Linked DNA regions of Homo sapiens. The protein of the gene in region 3 interacts with the protein of the main gene of each other region in a pairwise test. Each region holds a gene or a part of one and is shown on either strand. Other genes may lie near its edges. The genes, in order: PCDHGA4, IGSF21, PAEP and HIBADH.

Evidence for each region.
Region 1: the proteins of PAEP (region 3) and PCDHGA4 interact in binary tests that used the Homo sapiens proteins (3 or more experiments, as listed by UniProt).
Region 2: the proteins of PAEP (region 3) and IGSF21 interact in a two-hybrid assay, tested with the Homo sapiens proteins (one large-scale study listed by BioGRID and IntAct).
Region 4: the proteins of PAEP (region 3) and HIBADH interact in binary tests that used the Homo sapiens proteins (3 or more experiments, as listed by UniProt).

What each region holds. Positions count from the first base shown.
Region 1 is NC_000005.10:141,353,717-141,358,325, reverse strand, and holds the start of PCDHGA4 (protocadherin gamma-A4 isoform 1 precursor), read right to left. Parts: upstream 3,306-4,609; 5' UTR 3,219-3,305; coding exon 705-3,218; coding exon of another isoform or gene 663-704; exon of another isoform or gene 593-662; intron 1-592. UniProt on the Homo sapiens protein: Potential calcium-dependent cell-adhesion protein. May be involved in the establishment and maintenance of specific neuronal connections in the brain.
Region 2 is NC_000001.11:18,106,383-18,110,951, reverse strand, and holds the start of IGSF21 (immunoglobulin superfamily member 21 precursor), read right to left. Parts: upstream 3,155-4,569; 5' UTR 2,824-3,154; coding exon 2,754-2,823; intron 1-2,753. UniProt on the Homo sapiens protein: Involved in synaptic inhibition in the brain. Selectively regulates inhibitory presynaptic differentiation through interacting with presynaptic NRXN2.
Region 3 is NC_000009.12:135,560,277-135,565,001, reverse strand, and holds the start of PAEP (glycodelin isoform 1 precursor), read right to left. Parts: upstream 3,247-4,725; 5' UTR 3,201-3,246; coding exon 3,105-3,200; intron 2,709-3,104; coding exon 2,569-2,708; intron 2,183-2,568; coding exon 2,109-2,182; intron 759-2,108; coding exon 648-758; intron 1-647. UniProt on the Homo sapiens protein: Glycoprotein that regulates critical steps during fertilization and also has immunomonomodulatory effects. Four glycoforms, namely glycodelin-S, -A, -F and -C have been identified in reproductive tissues that differ in glycosylation and biological activity.
Region 4 is NC_000007.14:27,526,368-27,530,500, reverse strand, and holds part of HIBADH (3-hydroxyisobutyrate dehydrogenase, mitochondrial isoform 1 precursor), read left to right. Parts: intron 1-4,128; coding exon 4,129-4,133.

The DNA.
Region 1 (4,609 bases), on a different chromosome or scaffold from region 3:
CTTCATGAGAAAGAATATTGTAAATGTGAATTTACACAATTGCCTTCTATTTTACAGGTCTCTTGTATCTTTTCAGGAACACCTAAGAGAAAAGGAAATTTATTCTTTATTTTACTTTATTTTATTTTACTTTTTGGAGACAGAGGCTTGCTCTGTTGCCCAGGCTGGAGTACAGTGTCATGATCTCAGCTCATTGCAACCTCTGCCTCCCAGGTTCAAGCAATTCTCATGCCTCAGCCTCCAGGGTAGCTGGGACTACGGGCACACACCACCACGCCTAGCTAACTTTTTGTATTTTAGTAGAGACTGGGTTTCACCATGTTGCCCAGACTGGTCTCGAACTCCTGAGCTCAGGCAATCCGTCCTCCTCACACTCCCAAAGTGTTAGGATTACAGGTGTGAGCCACCACACCCAGCACAGAAAAGGAAATTTAAGGAAATGAGGTGGCTCAGAGTTGTAAAATTAGAAAATTCTGGCTGAAACTACAACTGAATGAAGACCAAAAAGGATAAGTAATAAACAACATTTTTGTGTGGTAAATACTGTTGATCATTATTGGAAGGTCATCCACCAGTTTTCTTTAAAGCAATAAAATATTAAAAGAGGCAACTTTATTTGATATATTACATATAAAATGAGAGACATTTACACAACTCTTTGTCTATATTTCAGTGTGGTATGATCTATTATAAGATTGACTCACCTGAAGATTAGGGTCTCCTTTTGTTTCAAGTAAATCCTGAGTTATCAGAAGAGGCTCGCTTTTCTCACAACTCTCCCGGCTGATGAGCGTGTCTGCATAGCTGGGTTGGGAGAAGATCAGGTGACTCTTCCGCGAGTCCGCGGTGAGGGAGACCTCGTGGGAATAGGTCTGCAGGAAAGCCCGAACCCCGTCCACGCCCACAAAGTGCGAGGCAGGCACACCTGCCAACCTGCTGCCTTCAGCGTGAAGCAGGCGTGACTTGTGCCAGCGTCTCAGCTTGAGTGCTAGCAGCACCGTGACAAAAGCCAGGAAGACGCAGGAGACAGCGGCCACTGCCACCACGAGATAGAGTGTGAGGCCCGAGTCGTCTGGGTCTGCTGAAGGCTTGAGGCTGCCCAAGTCAGCCAGGACATCTGGGATGCTGTCGGCCACAGCCACAGTGAGTGTGACGGTGGCCGAGAGAGGGGGCTGGCCATGGTCCTGGACGACCACTACAAGCCTCTGCTTGAGCGCGTCTCTGTCCAGCAGGGCCCGTGCGGTGCGCACCTCGCCTGTGTGCAGCCCCACTGCAAATAGTCCCGGCTCGCTGGACTTGAGTAGGCTGTAGGACAGCCAGGCATTCTGACCTGAGTCTCTGTCCACTGCCACCACTTTGGTCACCAGGTAGCCGGAATCTGCGGAGCGGGGTGCCAGCTCCACACCAGTGGAGCCATCAGTAGGGAAGGTGGGGTACAGGATCTCAGGGACATTGTCGTTCTGGTCCAGCACAAAGAGGCTCAGTGACACATTGCTGCTGAGTGGAGGGTCTCCACTGTCACTGGCTGTCATCAGCAGCTGCAGGTCTCTAAACTGCTCATAGTCGAAGGAGCAAAGAGCATATAGGATCCCTGTATTGGAGTTGATGGAGACATAGGAGGACAGAGGTGCACCCTGGAAGGTGTCTTCGGCCAGGGAGTAAGTGATTCGGGCATTGTCACCACTGTCAGGGTCTTGAGCAGTCATAGATAAGATGGAGGCTCCTCTGGGGTTGTTTTCAGGAATGTAAGCAGAGTAGGAAGCATGAGGGAAAGTGGGTGGGTTGTCATTGATGTCCATCACTTGCAGTGAAATATGAGTTTCTGTAGACAGTGGAGGAGTTCCCTGGTCAGTGGCAGTTACAGTGATGTTATATTCTGAGACTTCTTCCCTGTCCAGTGTTCTGTGTGTCAACAACCGATAATAATTTCCATAGGTCTTTTCAAGTGTGAATGGCAGATTATCTGGAATAGAACATGTGACTAGGCCATTTCCTCCTGAGTCACTGTCATGCACGTTGAAAAGTGCAATTACTGTACCCGGGGAAGAAGATTCCTGGACTGAGCTGGTGAGAGATGTAACTGTGACTTCTGGTGCGTTGTCATTTTCATCCAGAACTGTCACCAGTACCTTGCTTCTAGCTCGGAGACCAGGCCCATCATGGGCTTCTACATCTATGTCATAGAATCCAGAGTCCTCATAATCTAGACCCCCCAATATTGTTATATCCCCACTCAGAGAATTCAACTGAAATAGCTGTGATATTTTGTCTCTTACTTTCCGGAAAGAATACGTCACGTCTCCATTGGCTCCTTCATCTGGATCAGTGGCTTTTACGGTGAGTAGCCGAGTGCCTACAGGAACGTTCTCACGAACACTTACGTGGTACTCGGGCTGAGTGAACACGGGAGCATTATCGTTGGTATCCACAAGTATTATGAGAATCCTGGCAGTGCCAGAGCGAACCGGGTCACCTCCATCGAAGGCCGTGAGAACGAGGTGGTGAACCGCCTCTTCCTCGCGATCTAGAGCGCGTTCCAGCACCAGCTCTGGGTACTTAATCCCATCGGCCCCACTTTGCACGTCCAGGGAAAAGTAACCGTTTGAGTTGAGCTGGTAACCCTGCAGGGAGTTTACACCTACATCCGGATCAAAAGCTTCAGGAAGAGGAAATCTTGCCCCAGGATTTTCATTTTCAGCAACTTTTATTTCCCTCTGTTCTGTCCCAAAACTGGGTGGGTTATCATTAACATCGATTATTTCCACCTCTACCCGCAAAATCTTCACTGTATCTTCTAGAAGAATCTCCAGGTTTGTCACACAGTTTGGAGATCTGTCGCAGAGCTCCTCCCTGTCTATCCTACCCGCGGTGACCAAGGTGCCGCTGCGCGGGTTCAGGGCGAAAAGCTGCGTCCTACCTCTGGAGACGATGCGGACTCCGCGCTCCGCCAGCTCCCGGGGCGCCAACCCCAGGTCCTTGGCGATGTTGCCCACCACTGAGCCTTCTTCCTGCTCCTCAAACACCGAGTAGAGAATCTGTTCGGCCCTGATTTCCACCAGAACCCCCAGGAGAAGGCAGATCTGGAGCAGCCGGGTGTGGTCTGGGCGAGCAGGAGGCGCCGCCATTACAACCCCGCCGCGGAGTCGCCTGTGCTTCGGTTTTCCCTCTGTCGAGGCCTGAGGAGCCCCAGGATCTTCTGGGTCCAAAATAAAGTGCATTCACAGCCAGAGCTCTCAGGGCTTCCGCTTGAAGCTTTCATAAAGCTCCAGAGCCAGTGCTTTGTGCTGCAGAAATCTTGTGATTCTGATTAAATTTCTGGTTTGTCTTTTCCCCCTGATTGGTGAACAGCGACACCCAGAGTCTTAACCTGTTACTGCAATTTATTCTTGGTTAAAAAAAGTTTATTTTTTATACACTTTTCTATTCCTATTTCTCCCAAGATAATAAAGTCAAATTCCTGTTTTTGATTTGCAATGAAAATTCAAGAATGATCCAAGTCTTCCTGTACAATAAACTTTATGAAGTTATTTATTTTCTTAGAGAAAATATGACGATTTTTTTCCTAAGATGTGTTCTTCCTCTTTTCAGTTTTCACATTGTTCATCCCCACAGCCCATTCTCAGTATAGCGTATTGTGTGAGGGACATAATTATCTCTCCTAAAGACAAAGGTGGACTTGAAAAATGGATGAGACAGATAAGTGAAAAGACAGTGGGACAGGAACTTGGAGGTCTGGCTTTAGTCCCAATTTATGCAGTAACAAGTTTCCTCACAGGAGTTGACCCTCTAGAACCTGGGGCAATGCTTCAATTCCCTTGCAAAAAACTCACCTACTGTTCAAGAGTTAGCCTTACCCTGTACAAATGAGATTGACAAATAGGATAATAGGTTTGGGAAGAGAATTTGCTCCTTAATTTTGTGTACAGTAGATTCTTGGCCACAAGCTATGCATATGACTATCTTGTTCACAATGTGTTCTCAATCTTTAGAACAATACCTTTCATAGAGTAGTAATTTTTATGAAACCTTTCAATGTTTCATGAATGACCAGTTCAAATGCAAAGCCTAAAACAATGGGTAAATAACTCTGATCTTAAAAATAAAAAAGAAATAAAAAGAAAAGTTAGACTGAATAACTATAAAGTGCAGATAATAGTTTAGTGATTTTTTCACATGACACATTCAGTATTATTTTACAATTTCTAACTTTACTTTAGCTCTCATTTTAGAAATAGCCAGTAAAAGGAAATGTTTTGGTAGCCGAACATGGATTATCATTGCATGTGCCATCGCTTTCTTTCTTATGAATACTTACAGTAATTTACTAATCTGTGAAAATTTGAGATAAAGCAGTACATCAGTTCTTAAGCTTATTCCTCACTTAACAATTAGCAGTAGAAATGACTCATACAAAAGGGCATTAGCTATACAGAATTTAAAAACCCTCAGACTTTGAGAGAGTAGATTAAACGTGTTTTTCACAATCCTCAAAGACCGCACAAACTGCGGATGATTGAGAGGTGAAATAAGATGTTTGGAAATAAATTTGACAGTATGCATTAAAAAAATCTCAACATGTTTATAGATTTAACTAATTCCTCAGAAATCT
Region 2 (4,569 bases), on a different chromosome or scaffold from region 3:
TCCCGGAGACCCCCGGCTGGGGCCGTGGGCTACCCCTAACTGGGGCTGCCCCCACCCTGCTCTCAGCGGAACGTTTCCCAGGGCTGAACAGCGGCTAAGGACCACTCCTCCATCCCCAGCCCGGCGCCACTGCACAGGCTCCAGTGCAGGACTTCCCAGAAGTGCCCAGGCACGGTTCACGGGGGCTGGAGGAGTTGAAAACGCCCCAGGACACGCCCAGGAGTCCCGAGAAATGTGGGTTTCTCCTTTGGAGGGTCTGATTCTGGGAAGTGGGGAGCCAGGGCAAGGACTTCCGGCCCAGCCAGTGCGAGGGGCAGCGGCCTCCTTCCTCCTGCCAGACCCGACTCTCTAGCGTCGGGCACCCTTGCTCTGCCACCCAAAGGGGCAGAACCGGCGAGGGCGTTCTGGCCGTGCCCCTCCCCGAGCAGTGACCGCCAGTACGTTCGTGAAGGCCGGCGCGGGTTGCTCCTCTCTGCGCCCTCGGAGGCAGGTGGCCCTGCAAAGCCGCTGCCAGGTGCACCTCTCTCGGCCACCTCCAGGAAGGGCGCCCTCCTCCGGCACAGCCCGCCTCTTGCGTCTCTCACGGACTCTTCTCGCACCCCGCCCCCCATTCTGGGCACAGACTTGGAAGGAGGAAGGAGGGACCCCACCCTCGTGTGCTCTCCTCTGCGGAGAAGAGAGGGCTCCCGGCTGCCTCGGATCTCCCTCTGCGCCCCAGACGCGGAAAGTTTCCCATTCGCGATCCGCGTCTGCGCTCTTCCTTCATCCTGAGCAGCGGAGCTCCGAGGCCGCGCTGGCTGCACCGGCCCAGATGCGCTCACCCTCAGGCACGCCAACCCCCGCCTCCCGCAGCCCGCAGAGGCGGGCAAAGGGATTTGAGGCGTCAGGATGCCGGGTCAGCTCTCTGCAGCCGGGCAGCCAGAAGAACCCTGCTCCCGGGTTCCAGGGAGAGCTCGCAGGGTGGGGTCCTGACGGAGCCAGGGTTTCCCAACAAGCCCTTCTCATCAGTCCTCTCCTTCACCCTGCCGCGTCTCTCTGTTCTGCGCATTCCCAGGGAAAGGGGTGCTTACCTTAGGTCCCCAGCCTCCAACCCCCGCCCCCTGCAATGTCCAGGTGAGGGCTCCAGTGCCTTTCAACAAACCCCAGTGCCCTCTCGGCGGCGCTGGAACGAGGACCTCCCCCATGTAACCTTTCCCTCTAGAGCCCTCCTCCCAAAGTTGAGGGGGGACATTTTGATCCACTTAGGAAAGTCTCTTGTTCCAAGGGTAGGGGAACAAAGTACAGGGTTTGCATTCCTTCTGGGTTACACCAACCCCTCCCCCCTCGCTGTCAGGACCACCTTCCGGGCTCAAATTCTGCAGCTTCTCCCATCAGCAGACCCAGCACTCCCCAAGGACTTCGGGGTAGAAGGAGTTGGGGTTATTTTTAAGGGGGCACCCCTTCCTGGCAGGCACTCTCAGAGCCTAGGTAGGCACCTCCTGCTGGGACAAGGCTATGGCATAGGACAGAGGTGATGCCCACCTCTATCATCCAGTGGGGCTCGGGGTCGAGACCTTATTGATCATAAAGACGACTTTTTGGCACCTCGCGTCCCGCTCCCCTCCGAGGCGGAGCCAGGCTCTGACTCCAGCCAGGCTGAGGTTGGCACCAGGCTCCGAGGAGGATCCCGGACGCGGAGCCTGTAGTCTCGGTGCCTGCGGCTCTTCGCTGGTCCCGCCTCCCTCCCTCCTGGCTTTTAGCCTCACGTTGGCTCTCTGCTCACTGCGCGAAAGGGTTCAGCTCCATTTAAGACCCACTACGCGGCGGCACTGGGTGGGAGGCCGGCCGCGGACCCTGGGGCTGCGGAGCCACCTCTCACTGGCTCCGGAGAACCCGCTCGGCTTCAACCTCCTTCTAGCTGTCTTAGCCTAACCCGGGAGCAAGTCCACACGGCGGGACACACACACACACACACACACACACACACTGAGCTGCTCACAACTCCCCAGCCCCGGAAGCGTCCATACCTCCCTGCACACGATAACCACACGCTCCATGGCACGCATACACACACTCCCAGCCCCATGAAGCCCACGACTCCCAGGCACCTGCACCCCCACCCATCCCACATAAGCAGACTCTTGTCCAGTGTCACAGTCCCATCTCCTGTGCACACAGAAATAGTAATCCGCTGTCGTACACCCCTAGAGACCTGCACACTCGGGACACACGTGAAACGCCAAACCTCACATACCCACCCCCTAACACCTCACACCCACAGTGACACAAGCTCACACACTTCACACCCTCACAGGGAAGGTGGCACATGTTCACACCCTCCCCCCAACATTCGCTCACACTCTCACACACACACCTTCTCCATGTAACTGACACAGACACTCTAACACCCATCCAGACCCTCGCTCACTCACACGCAGACCCCACACCATCACACACACACGCACACACACACTTGCATCTCTAAATACACTCCCGCACCTTCTGCCCACACAGCTCCTTCCCGGACACCCTCACCCAGACACACAACAAAGACACACAATTTACACACACACACACACCCTGGCACAAATCCATGAGCGCTCTCCAAGAGGCGTCCTCCCTCCCTCATCGAGCCAACCAGCTCCACAGACCCCGGGCAGGACCGGTGCTCGTAGCCCGAGCCTCTCGGAGCGACCCCGGCCAGCGCCCTCCCCCGGCACCCCGTCCCCGCGCACGTTCACCGCTCGGCTCCCGCCAGGCGCCCGCGCACTCACCGCGCGCCAGGTCCAGGATCGCGGCGAGCAGCAGGCAGACGCAGCGGCGGAGGCTCGGGGCGGTTCGCATGGTGCCCGGGAGCTGGCGGCGGTGGCGGGGCGGCGGGGGTGGAGGCGGTGGCGGCGGGTCCCCTCGCCATGGGCTCAGACGCGCTCCTGCCTCCGGCCACTGGCCGAGGCGGTGGCGGGCAGCGCGGAGAGCCGCGGGGGCGCCCCCATGCCGCCGCGGCCAGGCAGCCCGGGCGCCCGGCTCGACTCGGCTCCGGCTCTGCGAGGCGCAGCGACCCTCGCGCTCTGGGCGTCCTCGGGGCTCGCCGCGGTTCTCGGCTCCCTAGCTGCGCGCGGTGCCCACCGCGGCCCAGAGTCCGATCGGCTGCAGCGCCGGAGTTTGGAGCCGAATCGCGCTCTCTGCCTCGCGCTCGCCTCTCCCGGCGGCGCGAGCACCCCCCTCCTCTCGCCCTCCCTCCGTCCCTCCCCCTCTCCCCGCCCCCCCGCCCTCCTTGCCCTCCCCTCGCCGCGCTCTCCGCGTATTATACAGACTTTTCTTTAATCCTTTCTGGGCTGTTCGGCTCTCGTCCGCTAAGCCGATTTATTGCAGGGAGAAGGAGAGCTCACCCCCTCCTAACCTCCCCTCTCCCCTCACTCAGGTCCCCCCTCACTCAAAACTGGCTTGCTGCCTCCAGCTTCTTAACCCTTACCCAGGTGACCCAACACCCCGCCCTGGAAGCTATGCTCCATCGGATCCGCCTTTACCTAGCCCCTCCTATCCCCGGGATTACCATCGCCCTCCCCGCTACTCAGCCTGATGAAAGGAGGCAGCCTCCCTCCCGAGAGGGAAAGATGCCATCCTGGGAGCAGGGCAGGCAGGGTGTGGCTCTGGAGTTCTGACCTTGCCAACGATGAATGCCCTCATTGGGCAAGATTAAGGGGTTTCCATGTTCTGAAACTTCCCCAATTACGGCTGCTCCTTCCCCCAGGGACCCACGGAAATGGGGTGTGTTCTGTCTTTTTCCCATGTGCTAGGATCCAGCCAGGAAGGGTGAGGAACTGATTGTTTCCTCCTGGCAGAGACCAAGTTTCCACCTTTTTGCCAGACCTGACAGCTTTTCTTCCCAGGTCCGAGAAGAACAGGTTTGGGACTTGTATGTTACCATTACTCTCCCACCAACACACACGCGAGCACACACACACACACACACACACACACACACACACCATTGAGCCTCAGCCCTGGCGGTGGACTTTGAGGCCTCCTGCGAGGATGAAGGGGAGGGGTACTCTAGCCCTTGGAGTGGACTGGGGATGTGGTTAGATGAGGAAGTTCAGGAGATAGAATTTCACCATTGGTAGGGACCCAGAAGATTGGCAAAGCCCAGAAAAACCAGCACGACCAGGGGCAAAACCTGCTCAGAACTCAGGTGGGTCCCTTTACCCAGGCCTTCTATGGAGAATCTCCAGCTTCCCTAGCTCTGGCAGGTTGCTGAGTCAGGCTGTTGCATCGTTTACCTACATGGGCAATGGGTCTATAGCCAGTTCCATCTCCAGCAGCCCTCTGAGAGGAGTGTAGGGAGTGGGGTGGGCAATGGGTGGTTGCTGGGCTGCCTCTGGGTGAGCTTTGTGCAGAGATGTCCATGAAAGTGAACTGCTCCCTCCTCCTGCCCTCTGGAACCTCACCCCATCGCCTCCCAAGGCAGCTCTGCGGCTCAGCTTGCTCACCCACCCCAGAAGGAGCGATTTGCATTTATGAAGATCTGAAAGCATACGTTCACCTGACAGGCTTTAGAATGATCCTCTCAGTAAAATAATAATAATGATC
Region 3 (4,725 bases):
CTATGTGGCTATTTTGGTATTCCTGGCCTTCGTTTGGTTGACAGCATCATAGGTTTCAGGGCGTTTTGACTGGACGCCCAGTGAGTATTAATCTATCCACCAAGCCCAGCCCCTTGACTGGCGACCGTCCCACTGGCCCTATATCAGCTCCTTGCTTTGTCAGAGGACTCGATGAACCGCTGGAGAAAAACTCAGCCTGGCCGGGCGTGGTGGCTCACGCCTGTAATCCCAGCCCTTTGGGAGGCCAAGGCGGGTGGATCACTTGATCCAGGAGTTGGAGACCAGCCTGGCCAACATGGTGAAACCCCGTCTCTACCAAAAAATACAAAAATTAGCTGGGCATGGTGGCGTGCGCCTGTAATCCCAGCTACTCTGGAGGCTGAGGCACGAGAATCGCTTGAATCTGGGAGGCAGAAGTTGCAGTGAGCCGAGATCACGTCACTACACTCCAGCCTGAGTGACAGAATGAGACCCTTTCTCAAAAAAACAAAGCAAACAACAAACAAATAAAAAAAACCAAGAAAAAAAAAGTCAGCCCACAGGCACCGAGGTGGACAGGAAGCCAGTTGTCAGCTCCCCAGGGTTCCCAGCCACGGACGTAGCTGCTGCCTCTCACCCACGTTGAGCTCATGTGCTGTGAGACCCACCCAGGTACTGGCACATCATGCTCTGGATGGGGGTGGTGGTGTCCTGTAGGCAGAGAAACAGGAAATTGTCGTAGTCAGTATCGAGCAGCGTGGCCTCGTTCGCCACCGTATCTGGGGAAAGAAGAGAAGAACCAAAAGGAAGATGAAGCCTCCGTCTCAGCAGAGTCCTGTGCAGGTGTGTGGACATCCCACCACACTAAGTGGCTTCCTCATCCACTGACACCATGGGACGTGGCCCCTGCTGTGGACCATGATCAGGGAAGCCAGGGAGGAAAGGGGAGGAGAGGCAATGTGGAGGGCCATGGAGCCCCGGCTGAGGGGGAGAGGCCAGGTGTGCCGTGGAGAGGCAGACACGGCAGGCAGGGAGGCTGTGACCTGGAGAGACTCCAACTGAGAAGTCACGTACGGGTGAGGATGGCGGGAGATGGCACAGGAACAGGGCACAGGGGCGGGAAGAGGGAGAAGAAATGGACCTTGGAGAGTGGCTCGATTCTGGGGAGGGCAAGCAGGGTCAGAAAGGCCTGAGGCAAGTCCCAAGCATGAGAAGCAAACTGTATTTGCTGGGAAAATGTGCCCATGAGGGGATAAGAGGCCCCAGACCCTGACCACCTCTGTCTTTTTAAAAAAATAATAATTAACAAAATAGAACAAAATGTTGCAAATTGTTAGGAAGAATTCAGTGGACCAAGGACATGCTGTAAGCCCCTCTCTCTTCCCCCAGAGAGGCCTGGGAGCTCAGCCTAAGACCAGAGCTGCAGCCCCAGAGTGCGCAGGAGGCAGCCAGGCCCACGGGAACAGCAGCCACTTGCCCACCTGCCCACCTGCCCACCTGCCCACCTGCCCACCTGTTCACCTACCCACCTGCCCACCTACCAACTTGTTCACCTGGCCACCTGTTCACCCACCCACCTGTTCACCTACTCACCTGCCCACCTGTCCACCTACCCACCTGTCCACCTGTATACCTACCCACCTACCCACCTGCCCACCTGTTCACCTAACCACCTGCTCACCTGCCCACCTGTTCACCTAACCACTTACTCACCTAGCCACCTGCCCACCTACCCACCTGTTCACCTACCCTCCTGCCCACCTGTATACATATCCACCTACCCACCTACCCACCTGCCCACCTGCCCACCTGCTCGCCTGCAGCCTCCCTGGCCTTTTGTGAGGCCAGAGTGAACAGTGCAACAAAGCACCTGTCCCCTGTGCCTGGGCACAGTGCAGACCCACATCCAGTCATGTCATGCCAAGAATTAGTGCTTCCCCTGCCCTCCAGGTAAAAGATGCCTCTGGGGTCAGCATCAGGTTGACCGGAGTAAACACTCTGACTCCCTGAAGCAGAGAGAGTGGGGACAGGCCAGGCCCCACTCCCTCATGCCCCAGCAGAGCCGCCTCTGGGAGAGCGTGGCTAGCATGCCAGCACTGAGCCAGCCCTTGGGGCCTGGGGACACTCACAGTTGATCTTGAACTTCTTTGGATTCTCAGTCTTCTCTCCAAGGACCTTCTTCTCAACACAGCTGTTGTTCTCCCTGAAAGGTGGTGACAATAGGATGAGTGGCCACTTGAATTGGAGTTGCCTTCACTGTCACTCCTAAAATCAGGTCACCACGGGAACTTCCCCGGGTCCAAGGAGCACCGCAGCCCGCAGCCGCCCAGACCTTCTCCTCAGTCTGACCTGGGGCTGCACTGTGTGGTTGGCTGTTGGCCCAGAGCCTGGGGCAGGGGATCCAAGGGGACAGGGAACGTCTGGAGCCCTGGTTTTCCACCCCACCCTCATGGAAGGGCCACAGTGAAGCCCCTGGCTGTCAGAAAATGCCTGGGGCTAAGTCCAGCTCCGCCCAACCCACCCAGTCCTGGACCCCTGAGGGGGGAGACTGAGCCCCCGCCCAGCCCGTCTCAATGATGAGAAACCCACCATCTGTGCAGAACGATCTCCAGGTTGTCCTCGGGGGTGGGCAACAGTGAGGTGATGTGGACCCTCAGAGGGGCCTTCAGTGTCGCCATGAGGGAGATGTTGTTGGTCGCCATGGCCATGGAGTGCCAGGTCCCTGCCAACTGAGGGGGCCTTGGGCTGCACGGCGGTCCCACCCCACCATGGCTCTCGTTGCACCCGGTGCAGACGGGGCTGAGTCTAACTGGGATGGGTACAGTGAGCATTGGATGGTTGTCTGCTATCTACCAGATCCTGGGCTATGAAATTTCCTGTACTTAAAATGACCAGTGTGTGCTAACTCAGGAGTGTTCCAAAGTCCAAATAATGAGTCACCTAGGATGCTGGGAAACCAGAGAGGCCACCCTAAAGATGGAGAGCAGGGCTGAGGGCTTCCTGACGTCATGGCGTCCATTCTGTGCTTCCTGTAGGTTTCTGAGATCCTGGGCTTCCTGCCTGCCCGCAGCTCCCACCCGCCCCAGGCCTCCCACAGTAAAGTGCCCGCTCCCCCAGCCTCAAACCTTTGGGAGCTCCAGGTCCTGCTTGGTCTGGGGGATGTCCATGGCCGGGACACCACAGACCAGGGCCACGCCCAGGGTGAGCAGGAGGCACAGCATGGCTGCGGCTGTGGGTGGCTCTGAGCTCTGGAGCCAGAGGGATGCTGAGGCAGTGTGGGCTCAGGGGGCCTTATGTAGGAGGAGGGCAGACAAGATCCCCGCCCACAGCCTCGCCATGTGATTCCTCGAACCTGTGACTCATCCTTGGCCCCTGGGCAGCTTCCTCCACTGGGGCAATGGGAGGCTCTTCCCTGCGTCCACGCGGGAACCTCCTCTGTGTCCGGGCTGGGCAGTTCTTGGCAGGGCCTCAGGCGGGAGGGGCCTGGGTCGGGTCCAGGCTGGCAGCGGCGGGAGCACCTTCTGGGTTGGGGCTCCTGGACAATGTTGGGTCAGAGGCCAGCACTGAGGACAGCTGTGTCCAGGGCAGGGGTATGGCCTGTGGGGCAGGCAGAGGGCCTGAGAGCCCCATGGCTGCCCCAGGATGCCACAGACATCATGCCAGTGGGTGACTGACTGCACGGTCATAATCCTGACCTGTACCTTCCACTCAGACATCCCCAGGTGTGCACACCTGTGTCCCTCAAACAGCCAGCCTCTGGACAGGTGCACACTGCCTGTTAGCACTGTTTCTCTCTGACTCACAGGCAAGACTGGGTGGAAATGGGAGGCAGTGGACTTTCAGACTTTGTCCTACAGTCTATATTGGATGTACTTTTTCCCACAGGGAAGCATCACTTTGTAACTTACAATCGAGCCCGCATCTCACTCCCTGGAGAGCACTTGAGTCCTGAGGCAAGACACGGGTGTCCACTCCCACTCCCCCATCCATCAGAGCAGGTCATTCCGGCCAGAGCAGCTAGGCAAGAAATGGTAACTAAAGGCAGGCAGATTGGGAAGGGGGAGGTATACCTGTCTCTATTCGCATATAACATCATTGCCCAGGTACAAAATTGCAAGAACTCTACAAAACCCCTCCTAGAACCGAGTGAGGTCAGCAAGGTCAATCGCACAAAAATCCACCGTGTTCCCACACAGTGTCAAGGAGTAGACAGAACCCGAAACTGGAAATTCAGGATTTGTAATCACACACACAGCATGTAGGCAAAAATCTCACCAAATATGGACAGGACTTAAACTCTGAACCCAAGGAAGGGAAATCAAAGACCTAAGGTAAAGGACAGGCACAATGTGTTCATGGGCTGGAAGCTTCAACACAGCAAAGGTGTTAGCTCTCCTCAACTCAACCTAGAGATTTAATGCAATTCCTATCAAATTCTCAGCAAGATATTTTGTAGGTAGCTATAGACATGTGTGTGACACACACACACACATATATACATATATACATTTTTTTGAGGCCAAGTCTTGCTCTGTTGCCCAGGGTGGAGTGCAGTGGTACGATCTTGACTCACTGCAACCTCTGCATCCCAGGTTCAAGTAATCCTGCTGCTTCAGCCTCCAGAGTAGCTGGGATTATAGGCGCCCACCACCACACCTGGCTAATGTTTGTATTTTTAGTAGAGAGGGGTTTTCACTATTTTGGCCAAGCTGGTCTCGAACTGCTGACCTCAAGTGATCTGCTCAC
Region 4 (4,133 bases), on a different chromosome or scaffold from region 3:
GCGCGATAGCTCATGCCTTTAATCCCAGCATTTTGGGAGGCCGAGGAGGGCAGATCACCTGAGGTCAGGAGTTCGAGACCAGCCTGGCTAACATGGTGAAACCCAGTTTCTACTAAAAATAAAAAAAATTAGTCGGGCGTGGTGGTGCGTGTCTGTAAGCCCAGCTACTCAGGAGGCTGAGGCAGGAGAATCGCTTGAACCCGGGAGGTGGAGATGGCAGTCAGCTGAGATAGCACCATTGCACTCCAGCCTGGGCAACAGAGTGAGACTTCGTCTCAAATAGAAAAAAAAAAAGAAAAAGAATACATATACCTAGATACCACACAAGCATACCTTGGAGATATTGTGGGTTCAGTTCCAGACAACCACAACAAGTCACACAAATTTTTTGGTTTCCCAGTACATATAAAAATTACGTTTATACTATGCCATAGTCTATTAAGTGTGCATTAGCATTATGTCTAAACAATATACGTATCTTAATTTTAAAATGCTCTATTGCTAAAAAAGCTAACAATTATCTGAGCCTTCAGTGAGTCATATAGTCCTTTTTTGCTGGTGGAAGGTCTTGCCTTGAGGTTGATGAATGGTGATTGACCAGGGTGGCGGTTGCTGAAGGTTGGGTGGCTATGACAATTTCTTAAAATAGGACAGTAATGAAGTTTAAGTTTACTGCATTGATTTACTCATCCTTTCACAGAAGATTTATGTGCTACTGTTTGATAGCATTTTACCCACAGTAGAACTTCTTTCAAAAACGGAGGCAATCCTCTCAAACCCTGATGCTACTTTATCAACTAAGTTTGTGTAATATTCTAAATCCTTTCTGTCATTTCACCAGGAGTAGATCCATCTCAAGAAACCACTTTCTTTGCTCATCCATAAGAAGCAACTCCTCATCCCTTCAAGTTTAGCACAAGATTGTAGTAATTCAGTCACATCTGCAGGCTCCACTTCTAATTCTAGTTCTCCTATTTCCACCACGTCTGCAGTGACTTTCTCCATTGAAGTCTTAAAGGCCTCAAAGTTATCCATGAGCATTGGAATCAGCTTCTTTCAAACTCCTGTTAATGTTGATATTTTGACCTCCTCCCATGAATCACAAATATTCTTAATGGCATCTAGAATGGTGAATTATTTTCATAAGGTTTCAGTTTACTCTGCCCAGAGCTGTCAGAGGAATCACTATATATGGTAGCTATTGCCTTATGAAATACTTCTCACATAAGAGTTGAAAAATGACTCTTTGATCCATGGGCTACAGAATGGATGTTGTGTTCATAGACATGAAAACAACATTAATCTCCCTGTACATCTCCATCAGCACTCTTGGGTGACCACGTGTACTGTCAGTGAGCAGTCGTATTTTGAAAGGAATCTTTTCTTCTGACCAGTAGGTCTCAACAGTGGGCTTAAAATAAATATTCAGTAAACCATCCCATAAACAGATGTGCTTTCTTCTAGACTTTGCTGTTCCATTTGGAGAGCACAGGCAGAGTAGATTCAGCATAATTCTTAAGGGCCCTAGGATTTTTGGAATGGTAAATGAGCATTGGCTTCAACTTCAAGTCCCCAGCTGCACTGGCCCTTAACAAGAGGGTTAGCCTGTCCTTTGATGCTTTGGAAACAGACATTGACTTCTCTTTAGCTGCGAAAGTCCTAGATGATATCTTCCAACAGCAGGCTGTTTCATCTACACTGAAAATCTGTTGTTTAGTGTGGCTACCCTCATCAGTGATAGCTGGATCTTCTGGATAACTAACTTCCTGCAGTTTCTCCATCAGCAGTTGCTGCTTCACCTTCCACTTTTATGTTATGGAGATGGCTTCTTTGCTTAAACCTCATGAACTAATCACTACTAGCTTCACACGTCTTCTGCAGCTTCCTCACCTCTCTCAGCCTTCACAGAATTGAAGAAAGTTAGGGCCTTGTTCTGGGTTAAGCTTTGGTTTAAGGGAATGTTTTGGCTGGTTTGATCTATCCAGACCACTCAAACTTACTCCCTATCAGCAGTAAGGCCGTTTCACTTATCATTCATGTGTTCACTGGAATAGCATTTGTAATTTTCTTCAAGAATTTTTTCTTTGCATTCTACTGTTTGTTTTAATGGGCCTGCCTTTCAGCCTGTCTTGATTTTCTACATGCCTTCCTCACTAAGCTTAATCATTTCTAGCTTTTGATTTAAAGTGTGAGACAGCTGACTCCTCTTTTCATTTGAACACTTAAGAGGCCATTGTAGGGTTATTAATTGGCCTAATTTCAATATTTTGTGTCTCAGGGAATAGGGAGGCCTGAGGGGTAAGAGAGAGAGAGCTGCCATTCAGTGGCTGGGCAGTCAGAACACATGTGTACCACATTTATCGATTATGTTTGCCATCTTATGTGCGCTTTCTGACACCCCAAAACAGTTTCAATAGTAACATCAAAGATCACTGATCGGCTGGGCACAGTGGCTCATGCCTGTAATCCCAGCACTTTGGGAGGCCGAGGCAGGTGTATCACCTGAAGTTAGGAGTTTGAAACCAGCCTGGCCAACATGGTGAAACCCTGTCTCTACTAAAAAAAAAAAAAAAAAAAAAAAACGCTGGGTGTGGTGGTGGCAAATGCCTGTAATCCCAGCTGCTCAGGAGGCTGCGGGAGGAGAATCACTTGAACCCAGGAGGCAGAGGTTGCTGTGAGCCAAGATTGCGCCACTACACTCCAGCCTGGGCAACAAGAGAGAAACTCCGTCTCAAAAAAAAAAAAGTTACTGATTGATTGCAGATCACCGTAACAGAAATAATAGTAATGAAAAAGTTTGAAATATTGTGAGAATTACCAAAATGTGACAGCTGCATGAACTGGGCACATGCTGTTGGAAAAACAGTGCTGATAGACTTGCTCAATGCAGGATTGCCACAAACCTTCAATTATTAAAATACAAAAACAAACATGCATTATCTGTGAAGCATGATAAAGTGAAGCACACTAAGACAAGATGTGCCCATACTTGGCTTACTCTCCCTCATTCCCCATGACGTTTGTTCATTCTGCTTCTTGAATATGCCTTGAATTCATCCAGCTCCCTCCTCCCCAGCTAGCTGTACCTTGGCTGAGCCTCGTTTGTGTTGTACCACAAATACATCTTAACTGATCTTGTCTTTCAGCCTGATCTTCTCCAGTTTATTTTCCATATCAAAGCAAGAGTGAGCTTTCTAAAATGTAAAATCCTGATTGTGTCACTTCTCCTTTGAAGCTTTTGTAGTTTCAGTTACTTGGAGATTAAAGTCCATCCCTGCAACTTGTCTGACAAGCCCCCAGATGCCTTGGCTTTTGCTTGCCTCAACCAGACTGATTTTCTTTCCCATCCCCCTCTCCTTGCTTTCATCGTGCTGAACTCACTTCTCCCTCTTGTTCTGTCTCTTGGAAACCTTCACATTTGCTTCACATTTGCTGTCACATTGTCTGCCAGGATGGATCATTCTTCCTTGCCCACCACCTCCCTGCCACCCCCATGTTTTCACCTGGCTCCAGGTCTGTGCTTCACTGTCTTCTTTTTCTTCACCTTTCCCAGCACCCCAGACCCTGCTTCCTTGGATCCCATGATAGTACTCCTCCTATCCAATTATACCATGCTTATTTAATTGTCTTTCTCCTTAACACAATGTGAGTTTGGGTGGGCTGTGGCTGTTTTGCTCATCATTTTATCCCAGCTTCTGGCACATTGTCAGCACACTTCAAATATTTATTGGATGAAGTAATATTTGCAACTGTATTTCCTGTTTTGCAGTTTTATTTCTCCTTGTTTTCATTTAAGAATTTTTTAAAAAAAATTTATGTCTTAAAGATTTCCACAGATAAGATTACACAGGGAAATTTTTTTTCTTCAAATCTGTGGAACAAAACAAACAGGTATTGTGGAAGGTGGAAAAATCGAAGAGACACTCAGAAATCAAGGTTTCTGTCTGGAGCAATTTTGCAGTTATATGAAAGCGCTTATTTAAAAATGTTAACTTACCATAGTATTTATAAGTATCTTATTTTTTCAGATTACATTTTTCCTTCTTTCAAACCAAAACATAAGGAACCACAGTTCCAAAGAGCCTTTACCACCAGTCTCAGCGTGTTCTCTCCTCCTGTTTGATTTAGGATCT